7 linked regions of the Homo sapiens genome follow. The protein of the gene in region 1 purifies or fractionates together with the protein of each later gene. This does not show direct contact. Each region holds a gene or a part of one and is shown in the gene's direction. Other genes may lie near its edges.

Evidence for each region.
Region 2: the proteins of INA (region 1) and CNTROB purify together in Homo sapiens (co-immunoprecipitation; one large-scale study listed by IntAct). This does not show direct contact.
Region 3: the proteins of INA (region 1) and RAB11FIP5 fractionate together in Homo sapiens (co-fractionation; one large-scale study listed by BioGRID). This does not show direct contact.
Region 4: the proteins of INA (region 1) and POC5 purify together in Homo sapiens (co-immunoprecipitation; one large-scale study listed by IntAct). This does not show direct contact.
Region 5: the proteins of INA (region 1) and CDK5RAP2 purify together in Homo sapiens (co-immunoprecipitation; one large-scale study listed by IntAct). This does not show direct contact.
Region 6: the proteins of INA (region 1) and CEP170 purify together in Homo sapiens (co-immunoprecipitation; one large-scale study listed by IntAct). This does not show direct contact.
Region 7: the proteins of INA (region 1) and CCP110 purify together in Homo sapiens (co-immunoprecipitation; one large-scale study listed by IntAct). This does not show direct contact.

Annotation. Positions count from the first base shown.
Region 1 is NC_000010.11:103,283,638-103,287,137, forward strand, and holds part of INA (alpha-internexin), read left to right. Parts: intron 1-3,397; coding exon 3,398-3,500. UniProt on the Homo sapiens protein: Class-IV neuronal intermediate filament that is able to self-assemble. It is involved in the morphogenesis of neurons.
Region 2 is NC_000017.11:7,935,206-7,938,705, forward strand, and holds part of CNTROB (centrobin), read left to right. Parts: intron 1-1,032; exon of another isoform or gene 1,033-1,124; coding exon of another isoform or gene 1,125-1,160; coding exon 1,161-1,277; intron 1,278-1,495; coding exon 1,496-1,612; intron 1,613-1,958; coding exon 1,959-2,057; intron 2,058-3,500. UniProt on the Homo sapiens protein: Required for centriole duplication. Inhibition of centriole duplication leading to defects in cytokinesis.
Region 3 is NC_000002.12:73,092,449-73,095,948, reverse strand, and holds part of RAB11FIP5 (rab11 family-interacting protein 5), read left to right. Parts: intron 1-3,500. UniProt on the Homo sapiens protein: Rab effector involved in protein trafficking from apical recycling endosomes to the apical plasma membrane. Involved in insulin granule exocytosis. May regulate V-ATPase intracellular transport in response to extracellular acidosis.
Region 4 is NC_000005.10:75,700,438-75,703,937, reverse strand, and holds part of POC5 (centrosomal protein POC5), read left to right. Parts: intron 1-1,127; coding exon 1,128-1,333; intron 1,334-3,500. UniProt on the Homo sapiens protein: Essential for the assembly of the distal half of centrioles, required for centriole elongation. Acts as a negative regulator of centriole elongation.
Region 5 is NC_000009.12:120,405,668-120,409,167, reverse strand, and holds part of CDK5RAP2 (CDK5 regulatory subunit-associated protein 2), read left to right. Parts: coding exon 1-41; intron 42-699; coding exon 700-821; intron 822-1,919; coding exon 1,920-2,156; intron 2,157-3,500. UniProt on the Homo sapiens protein: Potential regulator of CDK5 activity via its interaction with CDK5R1. Negative regulator of centriole disengagement (licensing) which maintains centriole engagement and cohesion. Involved in regulation of mitotic spindle orientation.
Region 6 is NC_000001.11:243,126,282-243,129,781, reverse strand, and holds part of CEP170 (centrosomal protein of 170 kDa), read left to right. Parts: intron 1-328; coding exon 329-422; intron 423-1,481; coding exon 1,482-1,533; intron 1,534-3,043; coding exon 3,044-3,333; 3' UTR 3,334-3,500.
Region 7 is NC_000016.10:19,550,925-19,553,908, forward strand, and holds the end of CCP110 (centriolar coiled-coil protein of 110 kDa), read left to right. Parts: intron 1-271; coding exon 272-347; 3' UTR 348-2,484; downstream 2,485-2,984.

The DNA of each region.
Region 1 (3,500 bases):
CAGCCCTACCTTTCACCATTGCTTTATCATTCTCACACAAGGGGAGTTTCAAGGGCCTGTCAACACTTACTTTCTTGAGGTTTCTGATATGTTTATCTGCATCACTGTTTCTTTTTTTTTTTTTTTTTTTGAGATGGAGTTTTGCTCTTGTTGCCCAGGCTGGAGTGCAATGGCACGATCTCAGCTCACTGCAACCTCTGCCTCCCAGGTTCAAGTGATTCTCCTACCTCAGCCTCCAGAGTAGCTGGGATTACAGGCACACGCCACCACGCCCAGCTAATTTTTGTATTTTTAGTAGAGACCATAGTTTCACCATGTTGGCCAGCATAGTCTCAGTCTCTTGATTGACCTGAACTCCTGACCTCAGGTGATCCACCCGCCTCAGCCTCCCAAAGTGCTGGGATTACAGGCATGAGCCACCATGCCCGGCCCTGCATGACTGTTTCTTAAAAATAACCCCCAATCATTGTGTCTTTTTTTTTTTTTTTAAGACGGGGTCTTGCTGTGTCGCCCAGGCTGGAGCACAGTGGCGCCATCATAGCTCACTTCAACCTCCGCCTACCGGGCTCGAGCAATTCTCTCAGCTCAGCCTCAAGTGATTCGCCTGCCTCAGCTACCCAAAGTGCTGGGATGCCCTAGAGATGTTTTCTTGTTATCGCAACTGGGAGAGGGAAGTATGTGCTTCTGGCATCTAGCCAGGGATGTTACTAAATATCCCGCATTTCACAATAACAAATAATTAGCCAGCCTAAAACATCAACACTGCCAAAGTTGTAAAACTCTGTTATAGAGGAAAGCAACAGAAAATAAACTAGTATAAACCAGTAAATTGCCGGGGCCGGACACTGTGACTCATGCCTGTTATCCCAGCACTTTGGGAGGCTGAGGCGGGCGGATCACGAGGTTAGGAGTTCAAGACCAGCCTGGCCAACATGGTGAAACCCCATCTCTACTAAAAATACAAAAATTAGCCAGGTGTGGTGGTGCACACCTGTAATCCCAGCTACTCAGGAGGCTGAGGCAGGAGAATTACTTGAACCCAGGTGGTGGAGGTTGCAGTGAGCTGAGATTGCGCCACTGCACTCCAGCCTGGGTAACAGAGCAAGACTCCATCTCGGAAAAAAAAAAAAAGAAGAAGATAATTTCATATAATGGTAAGAGCTGAGAGCAGGGTGGCTGCATTCAACTGAGTGCTTTTTTTCTAATTTGCACAAGGTTCCTGCATGGGCCAGTAGCTGCTCTGGCTTAAGGTAAAATAAAGTGCTGGGTTGGTCGAGGATGGATACTTAAATTGGATGCAAATGAAGACCTGTCTGAGGAGAGGACATTATATTTTATTTTATTTTATTTTATTTTATTTTTTGAGATGGAGTTTCATTCTTGTTGTCCAGGCTGGAGTGCAATGGCACGATCTCGGCTCACTGCAACCTCCGCCTCCCAGATTCAAACAATTCTCCTGCTTCAGCCTCCCTAGTAGCTGGGATTATAGGCATGCACCACCACGCCCGGCTAATTTTTGTATTTTTAGTAGAGACAGAGTTTCTCCATATTGGTCTGGCTGGTCTCGAACTCCCAACCCCAGGTGATCCTCCCGCCTCAGCCTCCCAAAGTGCTGGGATTACAGGCATGAGCCATCGTGCCTGGCAGGAGAGGACATTTGAACTGAATCTTTTTTGAGACAGAGTTTTGCTCTTGTTGCCCAAGCTGGAGTGCGGTGGTACGATCTCAGCTCACTGCAACCTCTGCCTTCCAGATTCAAGCGATTCTCCTGCCTCAGCCTCCCAAGTAGGTGGGATTACAGGCGCTTGCCACTGCACACAGCTAATTTTTGTACTTTTAGTAGAGACGGGGTTTCTCCTTGTTGGTCTGGCTGGTCTCGAACTCCCGACTCCAGGTGATCCTCCTACCTCAGCCTCCCAAAGTGCTGGGATTACAGGCATGAGCCATCATGCCTGGCAGGAGAGGACATTTGAACTGAATCTTTTTTTTTTTTTTTTTGAGATGGAGTTTCGCTCTTGTTGCCCAGCTGGAATGCAGTGGCGCGATCTCGTCTCACTGCAACCTCCCCCTCCTGGGTTCAAGCGATTCTCCTGCCTCAGCCTCCCAAGTAGCTGGGATTACAGGTGCATGCCACTGCACCCAGCTAATTTTTGTATTTTTAGTAGAGACGGAGTTTTGCCATGTTAGCCAGGCTAGTCTTGAACTCCTGATCTCAGGTGATCTGCCTGCCTCAGCCTCCCAAAGTGCTAGGATTACAGGTGTGAGCCACCACACCCGGGTGAACTGAATCTTCTATGACAAGGAGTCGGCCATGTAAAGACCGGCATTTTAGATAGAGGAAATAACAAGCCTGAAGGGCCTGGGACAGCAATGAACTTGGTATAGTTAAGGAGTAAAAGAAAAGACCAGGCTGGGCATGGTGGCTCATACATGTAATCTAAGCACTTTAGGAGGTAAAGGCAGGAGTGTCTCTTGAGGCCAGGAGTTCAAGACCAGCCTGGACAACATAATGAGACCTCATCTTTACAAAACAAAAATCTTTTTTAACTAGCCAGGCATGGTAGTGTACACCTGTTAGTCCCAACTGCTTGGGAGGCTGAGACAGGAAGATCGCTTGAGCCCAGGAATTTTGAGGCTGCAGTGAGCTGTGATCACACCACTGTACTCCAGCCTAGGCAACAGAGCAAGACCTTGTCTCAAAAAAAAAAAAAAAAAAAAAAAAAGAATTCCTTCTGGCTGCTCAAGGACTATAAATATATAAATATAAAGCGATTTCTCTTCCATGCCTCGGTGTTTTAAAAATTCTGTGGAGTATTTCTGCTTTCTCCTTACCTATAATGTAAAATGCTCTCAGTAAAGTGACTGATTAGCAGGCTTCTAGGAAATCATCAAAATGAATGGAGGCAGAGAGGTCTTCCTGGAAAGCTCTCTGTGCTTTCCACATTCGGAATTTTCTGAATCTAAGCTGCTAACCTGAGGCTTTGGGTTTTGGAAAGCACATGCTACAACAGAGTTATTTAGCAGCAACACAACAAGCAAGGGAGGGATGGTAAGTGTAAAAAAAAAAAAAATCATCTCCATGTTCAGTTCAGAACTATATGCCGTGTGGCTATCCTGAAAAGGGCAGGTGTTCACTTGCCCTCTGGGTAAAAGTTCCCAGTCCTCACCATGAGTCCAAATCTCCTGGGGACCTTTATGAAAAAAATGCAAATGCTGGGACCCCACCCCAGAACCAGTGAATCTGGATCTGGACTCAGGGACAGACCTGGATATAAGCAAGTTATAAGTTCATTAGATGATTTTAATGTGTAGTCAGGGCTGGGAATCCTTGCCTTCTGGAAATCTTGAGGAATTTCAGCTGGTTTGGCCTAACTATTTTGGATATGTTACTTTTCAGGATAGCATTGGGCAGCTGGAGAATGATCTGAGGAACACCAAGAGTGAGATGGCACGCCACCTTCGGGAATACCAGGACTTGCTCAATGTCAAAATGGCTCTTG
Region 2 (3,500 bases), on another chromosome or scaffold:
TGAAAAGGGCTGAGGGGGCCTGGCGTGGTGGCTCACGCCTGTAATCACAGCACTTTGGGAGGCTGAGGCAGGCGGATCACGAGGTCAGGAGATCGAGACCATCCTGGCTAACACGGTGAAACCCGTCTCTACTAAAAATAGAAAAAATTAGCCGGGCATGGTGGTGGGTGCCTGTAGTCCCAGCTACTCGGGAGGCTGAGGCAGGAGAATGGCGTGAACCTGGGAGGCGGAGCTTGCAGTGAGCCGAGATCATGCCGCTGCACTCCAGCCTGGGCGACAGAGCGAGACTCCGTCTCAAAAAAAAAAAACTAAAAAAGAAAAGGGCTGAGGGTTAAGAGCCTGAAAGCTGGGACTTAAATGTTTTTCTGAGGAGGGCTTTTTTGACCATTCCATCTAATATGGCACCACCTCCTTTCCAAGTAGTCAGATCGCCTTCTTATTTCTTTCATGTAGCTTATCGTTCTGATATATCTTGTTTTTTTCTCCTCTCTAAAATTTGAGGGTCCGTATCTTGTTTGTCTTAGTACTGGCTGCCTAAGGTCTAGAATATACATAACACAGAAACACTCTGTGTTTGTCGAATGGACACAAACTCTGCTAGCTTGTGCACAGGATTTACAGCTACTGGTGATATACTGAGCTTTATCTCTGTGAGCCTCTGCCTTAGTGTCTGAAGGGGACAGAGAAATAGACAAAGGAGAGGAAAAGTCAAAATCACTGGTTGCCATTTTTGGAAGCCTCTCTTTCTCCATGTTAAACCCCTTGGCATGAATGAAAGGCTTTCCCCTTTATCCTTGCTGTGTTTATTCATTGTGTCCAATGAGCTTCTGAAGGTAGGAGTAACTTTGCACATTTTGCTGTGTGGGCTGCTGCATCTCTGCCAAAAGGTTTATGGGATTTTTACTCAGGAGATCCAGGAAAAGGAGGAGCCTGGAATCTAAGCACTTATCTCCTGAAAAGGTACAGAAACATGTTGGAGATCTTGAGCCTCAAGGTGCTTGCTTCAGAATTTTCCTGATTCTCCCTCTCCAGACCTATTCTGTTCTTGGGACCCAAGCTTCTTGGCTCCAGCCCACTCCCCCACTAGAGGAGCTGGAAAGTTTGGTGCTGTGGTCATACCAAAGATGGGCAACACCCAGACTCCTCACCCTTTTCCCCAGCATTGTGAGCGCCATATTCAGAGCCTGCAGACCCGAGTGTTAGAGCTACAGCAACAATTAGCCGTGGCTGTGGCTGCCGACCGCAAGAAAGATACCATGATTGAACAACTGGACAAGGTACCAGGGTAGCAAAATGTGGGTGGGTCTCTCCATGAAGAGCATTAAGGAATAATAAATAAGTGGGTGGCCAACCAATGTTTCTTGGTACATGCTGAGAGCTGGGCAAGGGGTTGGTTTGCTGACTGTTGGGAGAAGATGGCTGTTGACCCTGCCCCTGTGGGTAGAAAGAGGCAAAAAAGTTATTTTGAAATTTCATCTTACTTGCCCTACCTAAGACCCTGGCCCGTGTGGTGGAGGGCTGGAACCGGCATGAGGCTGAGCGGACAGAGGTTCTCAGGGGACTTCAAGAGGAACACCAGGCAGCAGAGCTCACCAGAAGCAAGCAGCAGGAGGTGAGCGCCCTGGAGCATATGGCATTAGAACCTGAGTCACAGATCTCAAGATGGAAAGGGGCAGAAATAGCTCTGGAATTAGGGTTTCCAACAGATTGACCTCAGTCTTGTAGTGGCTGTCCTGACATTTCTTCTCATCCCTCCTTTCTTCTCCTTTAACCGTTTCTGCTGTCCAACTTGAATCATCAATGTCTTAATTTTTCCCACACCATGTAGTCTTCTATCTGGCCCCTTAGTCATTTAGTTAACTGTGAAGTTTCAAGTTTACATTGTCAATGCTTTATAAAATATAGCACACACAGATTTCCCACAGTTCCTCTGCCCTGTATTCCTCTCTTCCTGAAAGACAGTAACCCGCCTGGAACAAAGCCTTTCTGAGGCCATGGAGGCCCTGAATCGTGAGCAGGAAAGTGCCAGACTGCAGCAACGGGAAAGAGAGACACTGGTGAGAAGATTGGACTGGGTTAATTCCACTGGAAGCTGTTAATTACTTCTAGAGAGCTGTGGGCTATTGGTGGATTGTGGGAGATTATAATTTGAGTTGCACCAGAGCACTGTTTCCCAAAGTGTGTTCCTTAGAACACTAATTCAGCTAGATATTCTATTAAAAAAAAAGGCTCTGCTACCAAGTCGGTTTGAGAAACTCTGCAAATTGTATCATCATTAGAATATTAGTGTCATCTGAAGAATTATTTTAAAATATAGGCTAGGCACGGTGGCTCACCCCTGTAATCCCAGCACTTTGGGAGGCCAAGGCAGGCAGATCATGAGGTCAGGAGTTTGAGACCAGCCTGGCCAGCATGGTGAAACCCCGTCTCTACTAAAAATACAAAAAACTAGCTGGACATGGTGGTGCATGCCTGTAGTCCCAGCGACTTGGGAGGCTGAGGCAGGAGAATTGCTTGAACCCAGCAGGCAGAGGTTGCAGTGAGCTGAGATCAAGCCACTGCACTCCAGCCTGGGTGACAGAGTGAGACTCCATCTCAAAAAATAAAAATAAAAAATAAAATAAAATAAAGATTTCTGGGACTCACCTGCAGAGGTTTTGATTCAGTAGATATATGGTGGAACTCAAATCTTTTCAGAAATTTCCTGGGTGATTTTTTTCAATCTGGTTTGGGACCTCTGGTGTAGGGCATGGCCAAAAAAGGTATGAAATTGACTAACTCAAGTTTCTTTTCGTGTTTTTTTTTTTTTTTTTTTGAGACAGGGTCGCGCTCTGTTGTCCAGGCTGGAGTGCAGTGGCACAATCTCAGCTCACTGCAGCCTCTGCCCCCTGGATTCTAGCGATTCTCCCACCTTAGCCTCCCAAGTAGCTGGGACTACAGGCGTATACCACCACGCCTAGCTAATTTTTGTATTTTTTTGGTAGAGACGGGGTTTCGCCATGTTGGCCAGGCTGGTCTCAAACTCCTGACCTCAAGTGATCTGCCCGCCTTGGCCTCCCAAAGTGCTGGGATTACAGGCATAAGCCACCATACCCAGCCACTTCACTCAAGTCTCTTAGAGCTGAAATGATAAGGTGATTAGCCATATGAATTAGTAGCTGGGATTGGAACTTGTTGCATGCATAATGCATGCTTGCTACATGCATGCTGGTACTTGTAGTCTTAACAGGCTATATCTGACAGTCCTGATGATGATGGGTGATGGTTCACGATTATAGGCTGGATATTCTAGTCTTAGTGGAATTTCTTTTGACGATGATGGTGGTAACTATTGTGTATTGAGTACTTACTATGTGCCTGATGCCGTGCTAAATGCCTTACATATGCTTTTTACTTTAATGCTCAGAAGGCAGACCCTGTTATGATCTCCAGTTTACAGATAAGAATGTATGCCTAAGAACACATAGTAAATTCCAGAACCAGGATTCGAACCTGAGATT
Region 3 (3,500 bases), on another chromosome or scaffold:
TTTGAGGGGCTAAGGACAGGACAAAACCCTGAGGTCCCCTCAGTGGCATCTCAGGGCTCTGTGCTCTGGGATTGTGCCAACCTTTTGAAAGGGGGTCTGGTCTTCAGGGTCTGTGATGTGTAGCCAGGCCTTTACTGGCCTCTGTCTTCTCAGGGTACTCAGGGCAGGAGTATATGCATTCTGCTTTTCTGAAAGTTGCTAAACCTTAAAGGTTAAGGACATGGGCTTGGAGGCTGGCATTTTCATGTTCAAGTTCCAGCTCCATTACTTACTAGCTGTGTGGCCCTGGGCAACTTACAAACCATCTCCACAACTTAGTTTCCTCATCTGTAAAATGGGCCTCCCATCTCCTGGGCTGGTTGCATGGATAATAAAAGAGCTGCAGAGCCAGGCACACAGTGAGCCCTCAGCAGGGTCAGCTCTGGCCATTCTCTAGCCCCCTCATGTGCAGCCCTCTGCTCAGGTGTGGCCTCTGGGCCAGCAGCAGCATGGGTAGCTGGGAGCTCTCTCAGGTCCACCTACACTTTGGGTATCAGAATACACATTTTAACAAGATCCAGTGATTTTTTTTTGCACTTTGCAGTTTGAGAAGCACTGATGTGTGTCTTCTGAAGAGCAGCATCAGTAGCTGCGTGTGCCTCTTCAGGTGCAAGGAATTTTCTCTTACTGTGCCTTTTCTTACTGTGTCCATCATGTCCTGGCTGCAGAGGCACCTGGGACAAGTCCCAGATAATCACCATCTTCATCAAAACCCTTGTGTCCTGAGCATGTGCTGGCTGGGCCTTGGAGAGTTCAAGTGCCCCAGATGGTGCCCCTGACAGAGAGATGAAGTCAAGGTGGGTGCTTTGCAGGTGGAGCAGCTTAGTTCCTGCAGTGAAGGATGTGCCAGTTAGTGATATATGTGCTGCAGGCAGCCCGGACTCTGAGCACCAGGTGGGTGTCAGGGGAATTGTATGGGGGCAGAATCACTGTCCTTCCTCCTGGTTTGGTGAGAGTGTTGTTTCTCCAGTGGTTTCTGATCTAGGAGGCCTAATTCATCTTAACACTCTTAATTTCTAGAAAGTGCTTAATGCTGCCTGCTCCTCCCCAGTGTGTTCCTTTGGTAACTTACCCCCTCCTGGGGGAGGGATGAGTATTTCTAGGGTCAGTCCTCTCAGAAGCAGCGTGTCCTCGGGACTTGGGAAGGCAAGCCTTACTGGGCAGGAGAAAGACACAGGTTTCTCCTGGGTACCGATTGAGTGTCCTTAAGGACAAGCCCAGGTGGAGAGCCCAGGTGGCCGCTGACCTTAAAGTGATGTAAAGCGTTAGGGACCATCCTTGTGGTTCCCACATGGGGTCTGGGTGAATTCACTCACCTGTGGGGCCCCACCCCCAAACCCACTGAGAAATATAGATAACCAGGCCGGGACCTTCTAGTTCAGTAAGTCTGGGTGGCGTCTTGGGTGGATTTATATCTGTATATAAATCCTGCACCGATGCATAGCAGGTTTGGGTGCTACAGCTGTGGAGCTGTGAAAATGAGAGCTGTCTTGTGAGCCATTGTCTAGATGAATGTTGGGGCCTTGGTCACACCCTGATTGATTTTGGCCATGTCTCTGCCCTGGATGAAAGTGACAGGTCAGGCCTCAGCTTGGGCTTTGGAGTTCCTAAGCCCAGTGCCCCAGTCAGCTAGGCCTGGTGAAGGGCACAGAGAGGGAGAAAAAACCTTGATCAGGTAGGGAGGAAGGAACAGTAGCAGAATCTCCAAAACTGGAGACCAGGGCCTATCTCTTGCACAGCCAGACTTGGGAAGTTGAGGTTGGATTTTTTTTTTTTTTTTTTTTTTTTTGAGACAAAGTCTCACTCTGTTGCCCAGGCTGGAGTGCAGTGATATAATCTTGGCTCACTGCAACTTCCGCTTCCCAGGTTCAAGTGATTCTCATGCCTCAGCTTCCCGAGCAGCTCAGATTACAAACGTGTGCCACCACACCCAGCTAATTATTGTATTTTTAGTAGACACGGGGTTTCGCCATGTTGGCCAGGCAGGTCTCAAACTCCTGGCCTCAAGTGATCTGCCCGCCTTGGCCTCCCAAAGTGCTGGGATTGCAGGCATGAGCCACCATGCGCGTCCGAGGTTGAATATTTATTAAAGGATCTGGCACGTTCCCTTGAAGGCTAGGCAGAGCGATCGGCGTCAGGGATTCAAGAGCAGGAGTCCTAAGAGCTCACGGTCGTGGGAGAGAGTGAGAGGATAAGCTGGTTTTGCCAACCAGGCTTGGCGTGCCTTAGCCTCCCAACAGCCAAGAGGATGGTTGTCCCCACCTGAGGGCCAAGGAAGCGGAGGCTGAGGGAGGTGACCTGGTCAGTGGGGGACCCAGCACTCACCACCATGCCCTGCTGTCAGGCGCATCCAGATGAGAGCTGAGAGAGGGCCCTGCAGGGTTGTAACAGCTCCAGACTGTGCATGCATGATTTCTTTACTTTGGAGCTGTGTGCCCCAGGGGATACTCAGTCAATATCCACAAGAAACACAGTCCAGCAAGGGAGACCTTGGGTGCCCAGGACATGACAACACCAGGGGGTCCTGGGGCACGGTGCTGCCAGATCTGGCTGTAGAGTGAGTTTGGTTCAGAGTGTGTATGCCTGGTCAGAAAGAGGAGGGACTGGGCCAGGCCAGCAGGATGGTGGCAGCTGAGGGAGCTTCCCAGAGGAGTGGGACTTGAACTAGGTCATAGGACCCTGCTGTCATATTCCCCGTGGGGGCTTCAGTCTCTAGGGATGAGGTGCTCAGAGCCCATTTGCTCTGCTGCGTGTGGGGCTCTGTGAAAAGAAAGCCTCCATTTGTTTTCATTGCGGATTCCTCAGCCCCCCTCGACAGTGTTCATAGTTTTCCATTCTCCAGTGGACCTCCATGGTGCCCGACAGGTCTGTGGGGCTGTCTGGTCCAGGCACAGGGAAGTAGCACCTCTAGGGAGGGGGAGGATGTGGCCATCTCAGCTCATGTAGGCCATACTTCTGGGAGAAGGTCTGCTCTGGTTGAGTCCCTGGGGTGCCCAGGGTGGCCAAGGTGCCAGGCAGTATCCCATTCAGTCCTGCCCTTGACTGGGTTGCAGAGGGAGGTGGGGCTGGAAGGGAGGTGGACGAGTGATGGCAGCTGGGGTCCAGAGGTAGGTCCTGGCCATTCTCCATTTCACTGTGCTCTGGATGGGAGAGCCTAAAAAATATTCAGGGAAGCTTTTTCTTTTTCCTTCCGTGCTTCCTTGAAAAACAAGTCCAGGGAGAAACCCAAATTCCCTGTGGGGGAGGGCTGGGCAGAACAGGAGAAGGGGAAGTGACCTTATAGGGGAGAGAGGCCCAAAAGGTCCTTGTGGCAAAGGACCTGAAACTCGGCCTCCCGCCTTCCTCTGAGGGCTGGGAGGCAGAGGAGCACGGCCCATTTTGTGGCTCAGGAAGCTGAGATGAGATAGGAGCAAGAGCTTTCCCTTGTCTCTTTTTCCTATTACCACAGTAATATATGCTCC
Region 4 (3,500 bases), on another chromosome or scaffold:
ATGATTCGCCCACTTCAGCCTCCCAAAGTGCGGGGATTACAGGCATGAGCCACCGTGCCCAGCCTTTCAGTGCTTTTTTAGAAATAGATACCTGTTCTCTTTAGGGCCCTGACTCTCCCCCACCTCCCTGGATATGGGCAGGGGATGAGCGTTTTATATATATGCACATACATATAGAGATGTGTACATTTCTCACCTCTACATTGAAGCCTAACAGTGTACTTAACAACAGAGTATCTGCAAAACTAAATTATGAGTCTCTTTCTACTTAAATTGTTTAATTTTAATAGGTTTTTTGTTTGTTTTTGTTTTTGGAGACAGAGTCTCATTCTGTCACAGGCTGGAGTGCAGTGGCACGATCTCGGCTCACTGCAACCTCTGCCTCCCTGGTTCAAGCAATTCTCCTGCCTCAGCTTCCCGAGTAGCTGGGACTATAGGTGCGTGCCACCACACCCAGCTAATTTTTGTATTTTTAGTAGAGATGGGGTTTCACCTTGTTGGCCAGGATGGTCTCAATCTCTGGACCTCATGATTCACCCGCCTCGGCCTCCCAAAGTGCTAGGATTACAGGCATGAGCCACCGCGCCCGGCCGAATTTTAATAGTATTAAAACCAATCCCAGTGTTAAACTTACAGAGTAATATTGACCTATATACAACCACACTGACCTTGGTCAATTACTTAACTTTTTCTGAACCTCAGTTTCTCATCAGTAAAATGGAGATAATAATACCTATTTTTTAGGGTAGCATGTGTTATGAGAACTAATCTTTATAATGTTTTTATTACAGAAACAGAAAGCACTTCATTAATGGTGATATGATACAGATGATGATAGTTTCACCTCAGGCTGGACCTGGATATATGAAGGATCCTTATCTGGGATAGAGGTCATTTGCTGGGAGAGAAGGGATTGGGAGTATAGGAGGTATCTCATGCCAGTCTGTGCTAAATCACTGACAATACTGAAATTAAAAATAGATTAAGGTACACCTGAAAGGTAGTTTCTCTGCATTTTTTCTCAGCCTCCATAAGTAGCAGACGTCTTTTAGCCTTCCAGTATGGTTCCTTACCAACTTGAGTTATTTTCAATTTGGCTTGACAGCTACAACTTTTCTTTTATTCAGAGTCATCACCAGTGTTATCGCCAAGGAAGCCTTCTCACCCAGTCATGGATTTTTTCAGTTCACATCTTTTAGCTGACTCTTCCTCACCAGCAACAAATTCTAGTCATACAGATGCCCATGAAATACTTGTGAGCGATTTTCTTGTTTCTGATGAAAACCTTCAGAAGATGGAAAATGTGCTTGATCTTTGGAGTTCAGGTCTTAAGGTACGGTACAGCAGTTCTTCAATTACAGTTGTTTAGTATGTAATGTAATAGTTTTACTCTCATTTATACTGTTTTGTTTTTTTGAGTTAAACTTTCTAAAAATCTTTTGTTTCCTGAGATCAGTTTAGTGTCTTAAGTCTTGCTTCTCAATCTTTAATGTACTTACGAATCATAGCGGGAGCCTGTTAAACTACAGCTTCATATGCAGTAGGTCTTCAGCAGGGCCTAAGATCGTGCTTCTTTTTTTCTTTTTTTGACTCTTGTTTGTTTGTTTGATTTTACTTTAAGTTCTGGGATACATGTGGTGAACATGCAGGTTTGTTACATAGGTATACATGTGCCATGGTGGTTTGCTGCACCTATCAACCTGTCATCTAGGTTTCAAGCCCCACATGCATTAGGTATGTGTCCTAATGCTCTCCCTCCCCTTACCCTCCACCCCCTGACAGGCCCCGGTGTGTGATGTTCCCCTCCATGTGTCCATGTGTTCTCATTTCTGTCAAGCTCCCAGGTGTTGCTACTGGTTCAGAAACTGTACTTTGAGTTGCCAGGTTTTAAGTGGTTGCTGGAACGGTTCTACATGCTCCATTGAATTTCACAGATACTTTGAATGGCTCAGCCTGTGTGTAACTGAGACATACTGTGCCTTTACCATATCGTAGTTGTGACTAATAGAAATGTCTCCTTTTATGCAATAACGAAAGATCCAATTTTAGCAATGGATATTCATTTTATAGCCACTCCTATAGCAACTATGATGTGTAAGTGATAAAACTATAAAAGTTGATTTTTATTTTGATACTACTGGCCTTTAAGTAAAACAAAGTATTGCAGAAATAGTAAGTGGGTTTTATTTATTTATTTATTTATTTATTTTTATTATTATTATACTTTAAGTTTTAGGGTACATGTACACAATGTGCAGGTTAGTTACATATGTATACATGTGCCATGCTGGTGCGCTGCACCCACTAACTCATCATCTAGCATTAGGTATATCTCCCAATGCTATCCCTCCCCCCTCCCCCCACCCAACAACAGTCCCCAGAGTGTGATGTTCCCCTTCCTGTGTCCATGTGTTCTCCTTGTTCAATTCCCACCTATCAGTGAGAATATGCGGTGTTGGGTTTTTTGTTCTTGCGATAGTTTACTGAGAATGATGATTTCCAGTTTCATCCATGTCCCTACAAAGGACATGAACTCATCATTTTTTATGGCTGCATAGTATTCCATGGTGTATATGTGCCACATTTTCTTAATCCAGTCTATCATTGTTGGACATTTGGGTTGGTTCCAAGTCTTTGCTATTGTGAATAATGCCGCAATAAACATACGTGTGCATGTGTCTTTATAGCCGCATGATTTATAGTCCTTTGGGTATATACCCCGTAATGGGATGGCTGGGTCAAATGGTATTTGTAGTTCTAGATCCCTGAGGAATCGCCACACTGACTTCCACAATGGTTGAACTAGTTTACAGTCCCACCAACAGTGTAAAAGTGTTCCTATTTCTCCACATCCTCTCCAGCACCTGTTGTTTCCTGACTTTTTAATGATTGCCATTCTAACTGGTGTGAGATGGTATCTCATTGTGGTTTTGATTTGCATTTCTCTGATGGCCAGTGATGGTGAGCATTTTTTCATGTGTTTTTTGGCTGCATAAATGTCTTCTTTTGAGAAGTGTCTGTTCATGTCCTTTGCCCACTTTTTGATGGGGTTGTTTGCTTTTTTCTTGTAAATTTGTTTGAGTTCATTGTAGATTCTGGATATTAGCCCTTTGTCAGATAAGTAGGTTGTGAAAATTTTCTCCCGTTTTGTAGGTTGCCTGTTCACTCTGATGGTAGTTTGTTTTGCTGTGCAGAAGCTCTTTAGTTTAATTAGATCCCATTTGTCAATTTTGGCTTTTGTTGCCATTGCTTTTGGTGTTTTAGACATGAAGTCCTTGCCCATGCCTGTGTCCTGAATGGTAATGCCTAGGTTTTCTTCTAGGGTTTTTATGGTTTTAGGTCTAACATTTAAGTCTTTAATCCATCTTGAATTGATTTTTGTATAAGGTGTAAGGAAGGGATCCAGTTTCAGCTTTCTACATATGGCTAGCCAGTTTTCCCAGCACCATTTATTAAATAGGGAATCCTTTCCTCATTGCTTGTTTTTCTCAGGTTTGTCA
Region 5 (3,500 bases), on another chromosome or scaffold:
CTGATCCAGGAGGTCCGCTGCAGCGGCCAGGAGCTGAGCAGGTAGTGGCTGTGCTTCCCTGGTGGCCTGCTGGCCGTACCACGCATGCAGGCACTGGGCTGCAGTCGTGGAATCAGCACGCAGGCCTCTGCCTTAGTGCACAGTGGCAGGCAGTAGACACAAACACATTGTACGTCTGGTGCGCCTACAACATATGGAGAAAGATCCTGTAAGGAGGAGAGGGCTTGGCAGTGGGTTGCTGTTTTTTGTCAAGGGTGAGTCAGGGAAGGCCTTTGTGAAAAGATGCCATTTGCTCAGAGAGCTGAATGCAGTGAGGAGGTGAGTGCTGCAGCTACCTGGGAAAGATCATTTCAGGCAGAATGGGCGCAGGCCCTGAGGCAAAGTGGCTTAGGCCTGTGCCGGACAGAGCAGGGCAGTGTATCTGGAGAGGGGGCTGGCAGGATACCAAATCACATCGGGCTGCAGAGTCAGTGTGAGGACTTTGGGTTTTCCTCTGAGTGGCATGGGAAGCCACTGGGAGATTCTGAGCAGAGGAGTGGAATTAGGATTAGAGAGCACATGGAATTCTTAACCATGCTTGTCACTTCTTGGTCCACACTCTTGTGACTGAGGGTGGAATTGGCCTGCTCTGTGGGGTTTGAATAAGTTACCCTGAGGTAGAATTAACCTGTCCTTCTCATGCCTGTGGGGCCTTCTCAGGGTGCAGGAGGAGGTGAAGTTGAGGCAGCAGCTGCTCTCACAGAATGACAAGCTATTGCAGTCTCTCCGAGTGGAGCTGAAGGCGTATGAGAAGCTGGATGAAGAGCACAGGAGACTGAGAGGTACTGAGGCCCTTCTCACCTTGAGGCTACTGTGCTTTGGGCTGTAAGACCACCCGACAGCTGGCTGTAGGCACAGGAGGGCAGAGCTCAGCCCTCTCCACTCTGGCCTTGTGGGTAGAGTGGATGGGTGTTGAAGCTAGCTCTTTGACCCACTCTTCTTCTGAAGGAACAGCAGGAAACATAGAAGGACTGAGGCTCAGCACCCAGGCCAGCCGAGGTCCGGGTTCCCACTCACTTGTTCCCAGCTATGTGACCCTCAGTAGGCCACTTCACCCTTTGAGCCCATACCTATCTCTGTAAAACATGTCTCTCAGCACCTGTTGTGTGGAGAATTGTGTTGAAAATTGAATGAGACCATTTATTAAAAGCATCCTAGCAAGATACCTGACACATAGTAGGCACCCAGGAAATGACCTTTATTATAATCGTCCTGCTAGTATATGTTACTTTTTGCCCACTCATTCAGCAAACATTTATGGACACCTCTCACGTGCTGGGCATTGCTCTGGGGATGGTTGTTGGCCTCGTTGCTCTCTGTATCCCAGGAGAGATACCAGCTCAGAGTGCTTCAACTATAACGTCTAATGTTTCAGAATCAATTTTGAGGTGTGGTGAGGTGTTTTTTTTTTTTTTTTATTTTACTAATTTTCCAGATGGTTTCTCTCTATTGAAAGTTTATCTAGAAAGGGGTCATCTCACAGCTTTTATTTTCTCCTCAACTTGCTTTTTTTATTCTTGCTGTTGTGTCTTTTTAATATAGTGTGGCTCTTAAAATCATCCCCTTTCATTCTATAATTCTAGCCCAAATAGATTTTATTACTACTAGACATAATTTCGGGGTTTGGTGTGCAATTTGCTAGGCTTTTATGGCCAGAAGCGAAAATTAATTTCCAGCTCTTATTTAGCGTGTGGAATAGCAGCAATTAAGTCTGCCAATATTTTTGTTTCTAAAGTCAAGTTGTTATTTTAAACTGTACCTAGTTCTTAGGAAGGGGGAGGGCGATGGTGGTGGTGAGTGTAAAATGCGATTGAGTTCCTTCGATGGCTGACCCTTTGGTTGTGGAAGATGTCAGGGCTTCTCTTTGCACATGTCCTCAGAGGCGTCGGGAGAAGGCTGGAAGGGGCAGGATCCTTTCAGGGACCTGCACAGCCTCCTGATGGAGATCCAGGCTCTGCGCTTGCAACTAGAAAGGAGCATCGAAACCAGCAGCACTCTGCAGAGCAGGCTCAAGGAACAGCTGGCAAGGGGGGCAGAGAAGGCACAGGAAGGAGCCCTCACTCTGGCTGTCCAAGCCGTGTCCATCCCTGAGGTGCCCCTTCAGCCTGACAAACACGGTACTGCCCCTGCCTCTCCCCACTTGCTGAGAATGCAGCTCTGAGCATCTGTGTGTGACATGTGAACTTCTGAATGATGCCTTTGCCCCACAGAGGTGTCTTTCCATTGATAGCTGACATGCTGTACCCTAGGAGCCAGGGGACCTGACTGCTAATTAATTAGCGGTCACCTTGGGCAAAGTGGCGTAATCTCCATCTGAGGCATCTTGATTCTCAGGGAAGTGGAATTTGGACTTCCAGACACCCTCAGTGCCTCTGGCCTTGCTCCCTCCTATCCATTTAGTCCTGCCTGCATCACTTTGATGCTGAAATTTCTTTTAGTTTCTCTTACTGCCTTTAGAAGGGAACCTAAACATCTTAATCTGGCTTTCAGTGTCTTTCAGGATCTGAAAATCATCCTGATAGGTTTAAAAAGTGGATCTGTTTTGCATTTGTGTGCAGGTTAATTGCCTAGCCCTGGAGAGGCTGTGGGGGGTACGAGAAAGAGGACCAGACACCTCTACCACCCGCCCACCCAGGGTGTGGAGCAAACCAGTAAATGGTTAGACTCCAAGCAATCAGGCAGCCTGTCCTCTTTGCTCTAGAGATGAAAAACAAAGGCCCAGAGAGTGGATGGGGCTTGCCCAAAGTGGCACAGCAAGTAGGCAGCAGAGCTGGAGCTAGAAACCATTTCCAGCTTCGAGTCCAGGGCTGTTCCTAAACCCCACTGGACTCTCTGGAGCGTTGGGTATCCTGGGATTATCATCCTGACACCCATAGGGTAAATGTGTGTATCCAGTGGGATGAGGAATGCCAGCCTGCTTTACAAGCAAGTATTGTACTAAAGTTTGGACTGACTTTTACTTGGATACCTCTAGTTAAAAAAATAAAAATAAATCTCTTAAGGAGCACCTGGTCAGTCCGCTCGTAGTGATTAGTTCATTGATTTCTCATTGACAAGGATCTTAAAATTTAATCAAAAAGATGATGTAATAATATGAAAAAAGTGAACAGAGAAAAAAAGTTCATGATTCTACACATTGATCATTTTTTAAAATTTGCATATTTTTTCATTTATTAAATATGAGCATGAATTTATATTTTTCAAATTGGATTTTGTGTCATTGTGTGTCCTTTCTTTGTTTTTGCCCAATATTACATCATACATGTTCCCTGTGCTTTCACATGGGCTTCCTAATGATTGTTTGCAGGCTATTCTCAGTCACCAATCCATGACCCCGTTGATTTATTAAAGTGGTCTCTGATTTGGAGCCATAATAGACATCAATGTTAATATGCTTTTTGCTGTTAAATAATATTCTTAGGAGAAAACCCTACAAGGGGAACCTCATAAGTTTGGAAAGG
Region 6 (3,500 bases), on another chromosome or scaffold:
GATAAGAGGGCATTACTGTATTGTAAATTATAAATATTAAAGTTTTGAGGTCATAACATCATTTACATTTGTTTTATATTTTGTTTTCAATAAAGAATAAGATAAACAGTAAAGAATTTATGCATGTATTAATAAGCATTCAATTGGAGCTCATACACATGAATTAATTGGTACTGTTGGCTTAGTATTTTAATTCTCAGTTTATGCGGTGGTTGGTTTTTTTTCTTTGTGTACCTTTGAAAAGATACATTGCTTTGGTATTATTAACAAAAAAGTAATAGGTTTTTAAAATATAAAAAGTTATATGCTTATGTTTTTTGATTTATAGAATATTATTTAAAGACAAAGATCGGAATTGGGATGACATAGAAAGCAAATTAAGAGCCGAAAGTGAAGTCCCTATTGTGAAAACCTCAAGCATGGTATAGTAATTTTTCTTGAAGATTAAAACATTTTAATAGAGTTTTATTTTAAGGAAAAGACCCTTATTTTTGAGCTGTTCGTTGATTTGCTTTTTCAAAAGAAGATATAAATGCAAAATTTTGGGAAATTTTATTTCTTCTACTGACTCACAGGTTTAAAATGTTGATTGTTTCAAAGTTGCAGAGGGTATGAAGGAGGAGCCTTTTGTGTTTCTTACTAGTATAGATTGTTCTTGTAATAATTAAACATTAGAAACATGAAATTTTTAAAGAGAACCAAATCTAACATGAAAATATTAAGTTGACATAAGTCGTTTCCGTTTACTTAATATAATGCTTATCTTCTTTTTAAAAGAATTTGTACAGATTTTCATTGCTCAGAATATAATTATAATATTGAGGTTGCAGTTTATATGTTTTTACAAAGATAATTTGAAGGCATTTTTACATAGTTATTGCAAGGTTGATTAATAAGAATTTTAAAAATCTTTGCGGCCGGGTACTGTGGCTCACGCCTATAATCCCAGCACTTTGTGAGGCCAAGGAGGGCGGATCACTTGAGGTCAGGAGTTGAAGACCAGCCTGGCCAATATGGCGAAACTCTGTCTTTACTAAAAATACAAAAATTAGCCAGGCATTGTGGCGGGCGCCTATCATCCCAACTCCTTTGGGGGCTGAGGCAAGAGAATTACTTGAACCTGGGAGGAGGAGGTTACAGTGAGCCAAGATTGCGCCATTGCACTCCAGTCTGGGCGACAGAGTGAGACTCGGTCTCAAAAAAAAAAAATCTTTGCTTAAATAGTAGTAAATGTTAAACTTTTCATCTGCTACAATCATCTCACTGAAAAAGTTATTGTATTTCATTTTAGTTTAAATATTTTAATTTGAATCTTGTTTGCTAGATATCATAATTATTTCATATCATGTTGCTATTAATGTAGTAAGTACCATGTAGATAATATTAAGTGTTCCAAATAAAGTGAGAGTGAAATTCATTGCTTGTAAAGTGATAACATTTAGCTAAAAGTAGGCTAATTTTTGTTATTGCTTTCCCTGCAGGAGATTTCTTCTATCTTACAGGAACTGAAAAGAGTAGAAAAGCAGCTGCAAGGTAAATTTACTACTGAATTAAGTATAAAGAGCTAATAATTTAGAATAAGTGCCTTCTGAGTGGTATTTCTTAAAATATTGTTAGGATGTTATTTGATTAAATGTAATGACATACATAAAATACAGAGTTCAAACATTCACATTATTCATAAAAAGGAATTTTTTTAAACCCAGTATAAAAATTTAAAATGTAATAAAGATATATGTTGGGCATATTTTAGTTCATAGGTTTGACAGTAGGCTAGATGTCATAAACTAATTGAAATTTTTTATGTATTACATATAAATAATATGTGAAAAATATATAATAAAGTTGTGTTAATTAGCATTATTTGTGTGATTTGACAGTTCTTAAATTATGTTGGTGGTGTAACCTGAAACAAACTTACATTCTAATAGAAATAATAGTTGTTTGGTTGACAAGAAATGAGTACATATTGGCCATAGAGACCAGAAGAGAAAGGAGAGAAGAAAGTGAAAGAGGCTGCCCTCTAAACTTGTCAGAGCTGGGCTGTGCATTAATGCCTATGTATGTCTTGACCCAGAAGTCCCCAGTGGTACAACAGGCAGGTTCCATAGTCAACTGCTAATTCTACTGAGTCTTTATCTATCGAATAATCATAGGTACTTATGTGGATCCTATCAAAATGATTTTTCATCTTTATTTAGCCCCAACACACCTAAGGGTTATGGTACACCCCATGAGTAAAAGTGGCTTGCTAACACAGTGCTTGTTAGCTGGTAGACTGGGGGTATACTTTTAAAAGTCCCTTCTACATGATTCTTACATCTATGTTACTTCCTTCTCCCAACTCCCTACTCTGCCCAATGCCAAATTGAAAATCACCGCCTGAGAACTTTCCATGTCAACCCAAAGATCTTTTGGACTGAAAGCTGACCTTTAACTGACCCCTTCCATATAGGCAGCAAGTCTGTTTGGCTTTGCAAGCTGCCCTGTGATATTAGTCTGTAGGCTCTGAGGGAACCCCTGTATCTCAGTGGTGTATACAGCTGATAACCCTAGCACTCTGGCCAGGCTAAATGACCGTATTCTATGGTAGCATTCAAAGTATGCTGATGTTCTTCTGGCCTCTCCAGCCTTGAGGTTACTCTGAACCCTGACTTAGCAGCTAATACCTCAGTTATCTGAGTGATGTGGGTTTAGATGTTTATTAAAAATCATATTCAGTATTTTCTCGGTCCTCTCACAATAATGAAGACAAATTTCAACAAGATTTTTCTTGAATTCCACATCTTCAAATACCAGACTTACAAGTCTCTGAAATGCCCGTAAGTGCCACATCAAAGGACCCAGAGAAAGTATTCAGGGCTGGGTGATTTACAGTACAGCTACAGAATAACTAAGAATGGAGTTTTAAATATAATATTGGAAGATTAGCCACATTTAAGATCACATACGCACTGATAGTTTAAATATTATCCAAATCATGAACAGTGTTTATATGTGAATGTAACTGCATCTAAAATTATTTCCTTTTCCCGCCCTTTAGCAATCAATGCTATGATTGATCCTGATGGAACTTTGGAGGCTCTGAACAACATGGGATTTCCCAGTGCTATGTTGCCATCTCCACCGAAACAGAAGTCCAGCCCTGTGAATAACCACCACAGCCCGGGTCAGACACCAACACTTGGCCAACCAGAAGCTAGGGCTCTTCATCCTGCTGCTGTTTCAGCCGCAGCTGAATTTGAGAATGCTGAATCTGAGGCTGATTTCAGTATACATTTCAATAGATTCAACCCCGATGGGGAAGAGGAAGATGTTACAGTACAAGAATGACTTTCTCTTGATTGTTGAAAAATCATTACCTGTGGAATGGCTAGGAATATTGGAAGCAGCATAGTGTTGATGTACGCAAAACAAGACAGCTTGGTCAGCTACAATCTTGGAATCCCTGTCTTCTTAATTTTATTTATTTATTTTTGACGTATAATGTAGTATATCAA
Region 7 (2,984 bases), on another chromosome or scaffold:
TGGTTAAGTAAAATAACACATCAGGTGGACTTGGGTTATCAGAGTTCTTCCTTCTAGCTCTGTTCCTTAGGCAACTGCTCTCCTATGCCTCAGTTTTATTATCCTTAAAATGGTCATAACAATTTCTACCTCAGGATGATTCATATAAGGATTAAATATGATAATGTATATTGCCTAGCTCAGTGTTTGTTCCAGAGTAAAAACTCATTAAATGGTATCATTATAGAAAACCTCCCATTGAGAAGTAATACTGGTTTTGCTCTATTTTTAGGAGTATATGCAGGAAAAATCCAAAGAAAGCGGCCAAATGTTGCGACAATTTAAGAAGACAACATTCATTAGGATAAAATGGGGGGAAGGATTATTATTCATGTTATTTTCCCTGCCCAAGACTTTATTTAACCCTGGACTCCGTTTACACAGACAAAGTGACATCAGAAGGCTGAGCACTTATCTGGATCATTTGGTCAGTTTGGTAATTCCTGCTCCACACCCCTATTTTCCTCTTAATAATACGTTTGGGTGAAGACAAATTAGTGTTTAGTAATTGCATCATCTCTGTGCTTACCTATACAAACATAAGTTTATTTTATATGCCCAGATGTCTACAGAGACCCTTTTTGTAAATGTCAAGGACATTTGGATTTACTTTTACAGAATATTGAAAAGATAAGACAAATTATAAATAAGTTCTAAAACATAAATTTAATTCATCTCTGCATAGTGATTTTTGAATTTGATTCAAAGGGAAATTATTGCAGAAGAATGCCTTTCCCTCATTTTATAACTTTAAAAACTTGGATTAACCACTCAATGTCCACTTTCTTTGACTTACAGTATAACCATGTAGCCAATTGTGGCCCACTAAAATCTACAGAAGTTAATGTGGGTCACCATTTTGGTCAGAAGCATACATTCCTGTCAGACAACTAGTTGTCTGACAGAAATGTTAGGCTTCATGTATGTTACCCCAGTACTGTTAGAAACATTTGTACTAGGTTATAAGATCTTTCTGTGACAGGTAACAAATTTGGGGAAGACAGCACAATCTTCTTGAATGTAGCTCTTGGGAATGCATTATTACATCCATTTCTGTAACATAATAATATGTTGCATGCAGTTATATTTTCTATTTAGTCTGTATATTTTGTTCTTCATAGTCTGTTTTTTCTAGCATGCTTGATTTAGGAGAGAATAAAGGGCTATATAATAATAAATCCAGATTTCCGGATAAGAATATTGCCTGGTTAAAATTCTGCATTGCTTAAAGACACCCATGTTTAAGATTTTTCATCACTAACATATCCATTAAAAGTATCAACTGGCCAGGCAGGGTGGCTCACGCCTGTACTCCCAGCATTTTGTGAGGCCAAGGTGGGTGGATCACCTGAGGTCAGGAGTTTGAGACCAGCCTGACCAAACATGGCGAAACCCCATCTGTACTGAAAATACAAAAATTAGGCATGGTGGTGCATGCCTGTAGTTCCAGCTACTTGGGAGGCTGAGACAGGCGAATTGCTTGAACCTGGGAGGCAGAGGTTGCAGTGAGCTGAGACTGTGCCATTGCACTCCAGTCGGGTTAACAGAGCAAGACACTGTCTCAAAAAAAAAAAAAAAAAAAAGTATCAACCAACAAATGTTACCAAGATAACGTGACTTCATGAGGGAGAATGTCACTATTAATTTATCATACCATTTCCAAAAAGGGCTTTGTGCTTTTCACATAAAATTGAGACAGTGTATATTTAATCTAATTTAAATTTTAAAGAGATACTGGTATTTTGAAAATGCAACCTATATATATTCTTAATATCCTTTTAAGAATATGGAGATGAAGATTGTTTTCTCCAATTTTCTGTGCCATTTTAAATTTAACTTTGACATCCAGCTATAGACAGAAATAATAAGCCACCCTGGGTGTAAACTTGATTTTCTTTATTGAGATGTATCATGTATTGAATGAGTGAACCAGAAAATTAGAAGATGGTCAAAAAAAGTCCAAGTTACCAATTTTTTAAAATTTATAGGCAAAGTATCAAATTGTCTTCTTAATATGATAAACTGTGCTTTATCATTCTGAAAACTCAGGATACAGCTTATTCATAGCATTGTGGGTCTCTCCAGTAAGAAAGATGCTAAAAGTTTTGTGCACTTTTTGTGTGTGTAATGCAAATTAGTTAAAACAAATAGTTTTGGAGAAAGTTAAAACTAGCTTTAGAGTAAGGATGAGAAACTTGAGTGTTTTTAATTTAAAGATAAAAGCCTGTGTTTTACACATTCTTTTTTGGTGTTCATAGCTTCTTCTCATACAGGTGCCAGACACTGTTTGTGCTTTTGATGGATTTTTATTTATATACTTTTTTTGCTTATTTTTACTTTGAGTGGAATGTTCATTAATGTAAATTGTATTTATTTTTATACTTTTATTTTCACTAGTTTTGCTTCTAGGCAAAAAGCAAAATAAACTTTTCATCTTAAAGAAAATCTAGTTTGATTGTTTTTATTTACCAGGGGAAGGACTATTAAGAAATAGGCCGGGCATGGTGGCTCATGCCTGTAATTCTAGCACTTTGGGAGGCCAAGGTGGGTGGATCATGAGATCAGGAGTTTGAGATCAGCCTGGCTAACATGGTGAAACCCCGTCTCTACTAAAAATACAAAATTAGCTGGGCGTAGTGGTGCATGCCTGTAGTTCCAGCTACTTGGGAGGCTGAAGCAGGAGAATCGCCTGAGCCTGGGATGGGGAGGCTATAGTGAGCCGAGATTGTGCCACTGCACTGCAGCCTGGGTGACAGAGCAAGACTCCATCTCAAAACAAAACAAAAAAGAAACCGATATTAGCCAGGCATGGTGGTTCACATCTGTAGTCCTAGGTACGCTGGAGGCTGAGGCAGGAGGATCACTTGAACCCAGGAGTTACAGGTGGCAGTGAGCTATAATCGCACCACTGCACTCCAGCCTGAATGAGACTTTGTCTCCAAAAC